Linked DNA regions of Homo sapiens. The protein of the gene in region 1 purifies or fractionates together with the protein of each later gene. This does not show direct contact. Each region holds a gene or a part of one and is shown in the gene's direction. Other genes may lie near its edges.

The links.
Region 2: the proteins of GALK2 (region 1) and PLS1 purify together in Homo sapiens (affinity purification with mass spectrometry; 2 studies listed by BioGRID and IntAct, with this or other methods). This does not show direct contact.

The regions. Positions count from the first base shown.
Region 1 is NC_000015.10:49,278,033-49,281,884, forward strand, and holds part of GALK2 (N-acetylgalactosamine kinase), read left to right. Parts: intron 1-3,852. UniProt on the Homo sapiens protein: Acts on GalNAc. Also acts as a galactokinase when galactose is present at high concentrations. May be involved in a salvage pathway for the reutilization of free GalNAc derived from the degradation of complex carbohydrates.
Region 2 is NC_000003.12:142,672,893-142,676,392, forward strand, and holds part of PLS1 (plastin-1), read left to right. Parts: intron 1-3,264; coding exon 3,265-3,397; intron 3,398-3,500. UniProt on the Homo sapiens protein: Actin-bundling protein. In the inner ear, it is required for stereocilia formation. Mediates liquid packing of actin filaments that is necessary for stereocilia to grow to their proper dimensions.

The DNA.
Region 1 (3,852 bases):
CGGGCAGATCACGAGGTCAGGAGATCAAGACCATCCTGGCTAACACGGTGAAACCCCGTCTCTACTAAAAATACAAAAATTAGCCTGGCGTGGTGGCGGGCGCCTGTAGTCCCAGCTACTGGGGAGGCTGAGGCAGGAGAATGGCGTGAACCCGGGAGGCGGAGCTTGCAGTGAGCCGAGATCGCACCACTGTACTCCAGCCCGGGCGACAGAGCTAGACACTGACTCAAAAAAACAAAAACAAAAATAAAACACAATTGGACATATATTTTCCTGTTTGCCTCAGGCTTCATTACTCCTTAATGTTGAATTGGCTGTTTTAGAGGAATCCAGATTCTTTAAATTCTCTTTCCCTGAACACTTAAAAAATGGTCTTGTATTCTATAGTAATTATAACTTGTCTTTACATTTGGCTTGGGACTTGGCTGCTTTTTTATGTAAATCAGATGATTCCTTATTCATCATGTAAAGATAACACCAACTGTGTAGTACTTTAGAGCACTATAAGGTGCTTTTATTTGAAGTTTTAAACTTTAGTTTCTTGGATCATTACAATAATCCTGTGGCTAGGGAGGTGGGTATTTTTCTCCTTATTATGGATAGGAGGTAATATATGGTGGTGGTTAAGATTATGGGTGCTGGAGTCAGATCATTTGAGTTTGGATTATATCTTTAATAATTACTAGCCTAGTCTCAGCTAATAAACCCACTCAGTTTCCTAATCTGTAAGCCACAGAGACCTATTTTATAGGTGTATTAGTCCGTTATCACACTGCTGTGAAGAAATACTTGATACTGGGTAATTTTTAAAGGAAAGAGATGTAATTGACTCACAGTTCCACATTGCTGGGGCAGCCTCAGGAAACTTACAATCATGGCAGAAGGCAAAGGAGAAGCAGGTACTTTCTTCACAGGGCGGCAGGGCGGAGTGAGTGCAGGCAGGGGAAATGCCAGACACTTATAAAATCATCAGATCTCCCGAGACTCACTCACTATCATGAGAACAGCATGAGGGAAACCAACCCTGTGATCCAATTACCTCCACCTGGTCCTGCCCTTGACACGTAGGGATTATGGGGATTACAATTCAAGATGAGCTTTTGGGTGGGGACACAGCCAAACCATATCAGTAGGGTTGTGTGAGAAATAAATAATTCAGGCAAAGCAATTAGAACACTACCTAGCACATAATAAGTGCTCAATAAACCTTAACTACTAAAACTATTAGCATTGTTAATAGAATATGAATACATGGAAAAAATAATTAATAAGCATAAATTTCTCAAACTTCTCAATGTTCTGGTTTTTTCCTCTTAAGAGGGAGGATACTTAAATTTTGGTGAATCTCATTTGTCTTTTCATATCCCTTTGAGGTAGTGAAAAATAGATTACATCATCTCCATTTTGCAGGGACTGGTTGAAGTCCAGTGAGAAAAGAATACAGGCTTTGGAGTCAGGTGAGGTTCAAATCCTGGCACTTCCACTTCTGGTTATATATCTCTAAACCTCATTTTTCTCATGTCTATAATGGGGATAAGCAGAACTTTGTTTGGAGGTTTGAAGGAGATAATGCTTACAAAAGAAATAATGCAAGGTACTTAGTATACTTACCACATACTGTGACTCAGTAAATGTGGCTGTTATTGCTGTTGAGGGGAGGGGACTTTTTACACTGGCCCAGGGTCACAGTTAGTTGGGCACCCAGGTTCCATCATCTCTTACATAATGATGAATGTACTGCTTCATCTGGGTATGTTGTTTCTCTACATTTTAAATCCAAGTGTTTTGATCTTTTGGTTACTAATTTATTTTTAATGTACATATTATGGACACTGGCTCTGTGTGTCAGCAGACTATGAACAATGCCTATTGCATCAAAATCCTAAGTTTACCTCATGTCACAAGACAAAAGTTAATGTTAGTGAATCCACATGACCAACAAGGAATATGACACTTGCAGAATCTGTCAGATGGTGTTTGGGCAGCTATTCTCAGAAATTGAAAGCAGCAGGTGTTTATTAATATTTACTATGTGTTCGGCATTATGTGAAGTAGGGGACACAAAAGAAACACCATACTTTATTCATCTCTCACAAGAAACAGATGTGATAGAAACATGAAACAATTAACAATTAAGGAGCAATAATAACACTGTGATTCACAGACATGTAGATAAAAAGACAAGTAGAGCCACACTTAAAGCATATTCAATACATGATAATAGAGTTATTAACAGGGAGTGCTGAGGAGGAGTTATGTGGTATGTATGCATATGGGTGGTGGTGCAGGTTCCACGGCAAGGTGCTGCTTGAATTGTTGACTAGTTGGGAATGCGGTGGGGAGTATTGAGTGAAGAGAATGGAAAATCATATTTGTAAAGACAATGAGATGTGAAAGAGCCTGCGGTAGTAAAGAACAGCATTTGTTTAGTATCCCTCATGGCTGGAGCTTAGGATTTACAGGAGGAGTGGTGGGAGAGCAGGCTGGAGAAGTGCACTAGGGTTAAGTCATTAAAGACCTTGTGTACCATGCTGTAGAGTATGAGCATTAAGGTGTTGGCAACCAAGCAGGCAAGAGATGATTATATCAGTTTTTCAGAATAATTATTCTAGAAACATCATATAGTAAAACAGAAATAAGGGCCCGAATAAAGTCTTACAATAAATTAAACTGAATAGATGAATGAATGAATAGTAGTGTGAGTATTAGACGATACTAACTTAAATGTTTTAGGAGTTTAGAAAAAGGGGACACCATGATGGGAATAATATTCGAAGAAGACTCCATGATGAAGAAAGATTTTTTATTTTTTTATTTTTTTTTGAGAAGGGGTCTTACTCTGTCACCAGGCTGGAGTGCAGTGGTGCAACCTCGGCTCACTGCAACCTCCGCTGCCCAGGTTCAAGAGACTCTCCTGCCTCAGCCTCCTGAGTAGCTGTGACTACGGGCATGCACCACAATGCCCAGCTAATTTTTGTATTTTTAGTAGAGATGGGGTTTCGCCATGTTGGCCAGGATGGTCTTGATCTCTTGACCTCGTGATCCGCCCACCTCGGCCTCCCAAAGTGCTGGGATTACAGGCGTAAGCCACAGTGCTGGGCCATGAAGAAAGATTTGAGTGGTCAGCCCAGGGATTTATCTATAGTAGCTAGCCAATAAACTGGATATTGGACAAAAGTACAATTTATACAGGACAGAAGACAGGAAGTAATACCAAGTTGCATAAACATGTGTGAAGTGGTCAAAGAGACAAATCTAACTGGATAAGAATGGTAAATGATACAATTTCGTATGCATAATGGTCCCAGATTTTGGAAGCCTTCGAAATGCCTGGTTGAGGCGTTTAGATTTATTTCTTAATCAATAGGAAGCCATTAAAGATTCTTAAACAGATATTTCAAGATTTTCAGTTTGGGTTAGAACATCTTGGTTGGAGGAAGATGAGCCTGATGAGATGACACCAGTTCTGATTCTTACATTTAATGGAAATGCCAGAGAGACTTCATTACTTTTGGACAGGAAAATAAAGTTTAATGACCCCACTTTGGTTATGGGTAGACTGTGGAATAGTAGTTCACTGTTGGGAGACAAAGGAAGCTGAGGCAAAAATGAATGATTGCCCATATGAGATTTTCAGTGATACCAGTCTAGGGAAGGATAGAGTAAATAGAAAGATGGTAGAAACTGCTTGCTCTGTGGAGACTATTAGGGATGGCGAAAACATAGTGTGCACGGTCAATATCTTATTCCATACCCATAGCAGACATTGTTAATTGATTTTGGTATATTTTCCTATAGTCTGGAGCCCTTTTTAATGCAGTGCTCCAGGCAGGCTACTATTAGTTGATCAGA
Region 2 (3,500 bases), on another chromosome or scaffold:
AGAACACTATATTCATTATCAGTCACTCCCCATTTCCCTCTTCCCGAAGGCTCTGCAACCATTAAACTGCTTTCTATTTCTACAAATTTGCCTATTCTGGAAGTTTCATATAAATGGTATCATACTGTAGTGGCCTTTCATTTGACAGGCTTCTTCACTGGTGTAATATTTTCAAGGCTTATCCATGTTGTCACATATATCATACTTCATTCCTTTTTTTCTGACTGCAGCCTCGACCTCCAGAGTTCAAGGGATCCTCCCACCTCAGCCTCCCAAGTGCATAACCATGCCTCCCAAATGTGTACCACCATGCCCAGCTAATTTTTCTATCTTTTGTAGAGATGGGGTTTTGCTATGTCACCCAGGTTGATCTTGAACTCCTGGGTTCGAGCGATCTGCCTGCCTTGGGATTACAGGTGTGAGCCATGGTACCTGGCCCCTTCATTCCTTTTTATTGCTGAATATTCCATTCTATGGGCAATACCACATTTTGTTTATCCTTTCATCAGGTGATGGACATTTGGGTTGTTTCTAGTGTTTGGCTATTATAAATAATGCTATATGAACACTCATGAATGCATTTGTGTGTGGACATATACTTTGAATTCTCGTAGGCATATACTTAGGAGTAGAATTGCTTGAATTTTTGTTAACTCTATGTTTATCATTTTTAAAGAACTGCCAAATTGTTTTCCAAAGTGGCTGCACTTGTGAGGGCGATCTGGCTGCGACATCTGTCACCCCATTGATTGCCAGGGTTGATTTGGCTGATCTGGCTGGCTAGGCAGGTGTCCCCTTCCTCCCTCAGTGCTCCATGTGAGTCCTTCCCGAAGCTGCGTGCTCGGTTGAAGAGGACAACCATCCCAATAGAAGAGGACTGGTCTTTGGTCAAGGGTATACGAGTAGCTGCACTCCCCTGCTAGAACTTCCAAACAAGCTCTCAAGGTCCAAAGTGGCTGCACCATCTTACATTCCCACCAGCAATGTATGAGGGCTCCAGTTTCTTCAATTCTCACCAACACTTGTTTTTGTCCATTTAAAAAATTACAGCCATCCTAGTGGTTGTGATGTGGTATCTCATTCCTGGTTCCTATACCTGAAACATCCTTTCTTTCCTTGCCTATATTCACCTATTGAAAAACTATATTTCAAATAGTACCTCCTCTATGAAGCCTTTTCTTGATCACCCTAACTAAAAGTGATTGCTTCTTTTTTTAAATTCTGCAAACATTGCATATATATTTCTGGTGGTGTGTGTATTTCCCTTATATCACATTTCTTTGTATATTTGTTTTACAATTACACTAAAAAATTCCTCAATGGCAGATACAGTATTTTAGTGATCTCTGAATTCCTAGACTCCAAATCCTTCTAAGGAGGTGTGTATGAGGAGGCGAGAAGATAAGGCAGATTATGATATGTACAAAGAGGAAATATTAGTACATATTTGTGTTTTTGTTGACTTGTGTGTGTATGTATGTGTGGTGGATTAAATTTTGGGGGTACCTGCAAAATATTCCCTTGGGAAAATTACTTAATTCTAGGAACTGGGGCAACAATGGAGAAGGCCAAATCATTATGTGCTACCCTCTGATGGAAATGGGGATTATTTACTTTAAGGATTTATAATCTTAAATGGTTTTTATATCTACAGAATAATAATAAAGTTGTACAATGTTTTTACTTTAAGTTCCTTCCTATTTTCCCCACTGCATAACCCAACAAAATTTTCTACTTAAGATCAATGTACCCATACTAGAAGCCATGTGTTGAGAAGTTGTTGGATGAAGATGGCCAAAGATAGTGCTGGTATCTAGATTTGTGTCAATTTTTTCTTCGTTTTTTGTTTTTTTGAGACAAGAGTCTTGCTCTGTTGCCCAGGCTGGAGTGCAGTGGCGTGATCTCGGCTCACTGCAACCTCCGTCTCCCAGATTCAAGCAATTCTCCCTGCCTCAGCCTCCAGAGTAGCTGGGATTACAGGTGCCTGCCACCACACCTGGCTAATTTTTGTATTTTTTAGTAGAGATGGGGTTTTGCCATGTTGGCCAGGCTGGTCTCAAACTCCTGACCTCAGGTGATCTGCCCACCTCAGCCTCCCAAAGTGCAGGGATTACAGGCATGAGCCACCGCACCCAGCCAATTTGTGTCAATTTTTTAATAGTTAAATTCCATTGAAATTGAGCTGTTTTATTCATTTGAATAACTCTTGACTGAATTCAGTATTTCTGTTGTAAGCTAAAAATCACAGCTCTCTAAACCTTTTGGGGAGGATGGGATTTATTGCCATGGTATTTGTTTCTTGTATTTTTTTCCTTATTTAATTAACATATACATATTTGACCTCCGATGGTCTGCTTCTGACTCATTAGCTTTCAGAAGCAATACATATTTGGAAATATTTTTGAATCAAACCAAATATATATTGTGCTCATTTAAGATATATACCTTCATCTCTCCTAATAGATCAGTTTTTTGTTTGTTTTTTTGTTTGTTTTTTGTTTTTGTTTTTGAGACAGAGCCTTGCTCTGTCACCAGGCTGGAGTGCAGTGGCGCGATCTCGGTTCACTGCAAGCTCTGCCTCCTGGGTTCATGTCATTCTCCTGCCTCAGCCTCCCAAGTAGCTGGGATTACAGGCCCACGCCACCATGCCCAGCTAATTTATTTTTGTTTATTTAGTAGAGATGAGGTTTTAACATGTTGGCCAGGATGGTCTTGCTCTCTTGACCTCGTGATCTGCCCGTCTCAGCCTCCCAAAGTGCTGGGATTACAGGCGTGAGCCACCGTGCTCCCCGTTTTTTTTTTTGAAAGGGTCTCTCTTTGTGGCTTAGGCTAAAGTGCAGTGGCAGGATCTCCACTCACTGCAACCTCCACCCCCCGGTTCAAGCAATCCTGAAGCCTCAGCCTCTCGAGTAGCTGGGACTATGGGCATGTGCCATTATGCCTGGCTAATTTTTGTATTTTCAATAGAGACGGGGGTTTCTCCATGTTGCTCAGGCTGGTCTTGAACTCCTGACCTCAAGTGATCAGCCCGCCTTGGAAGTGCTTTGGGAAGTGCTGGGATTACAGGCGTGAGCCACCACACCCAGCCACCTTTCTTCTTTTCTTGAACCCTTTTGTGTTTTAGTAGATTTGTAATAATGGTCAATTATTATCTTTGAGCAGAAATTAACAAGTATGTTTTTGTAGTGCAATAGCTATGTATGTTTTTATAGTGCAATAAAGTTTGTGAAATGAGATTTGCCTACCAAGGTTTTCTCCTTTCAGAGGAAGAAAAAGTGGCTTTTGTTAACTGGATAAACAAAGCCCTGGAGAATGACCCTGACTGTAAGCATCTTATACCCATGAATCCCAATGATGATAGTCTTTTCAAGTCACTTGCAGATGGCATCCTTCTTTGGTGAGTTGAACTTCTGGTTAAGGAAGCTGCGTTCTTGCTGATTACATTGATGAGCATTCCATGAAAACTCCAATTCAGCTGTCCATTGTCTTTTGGAGTCAGT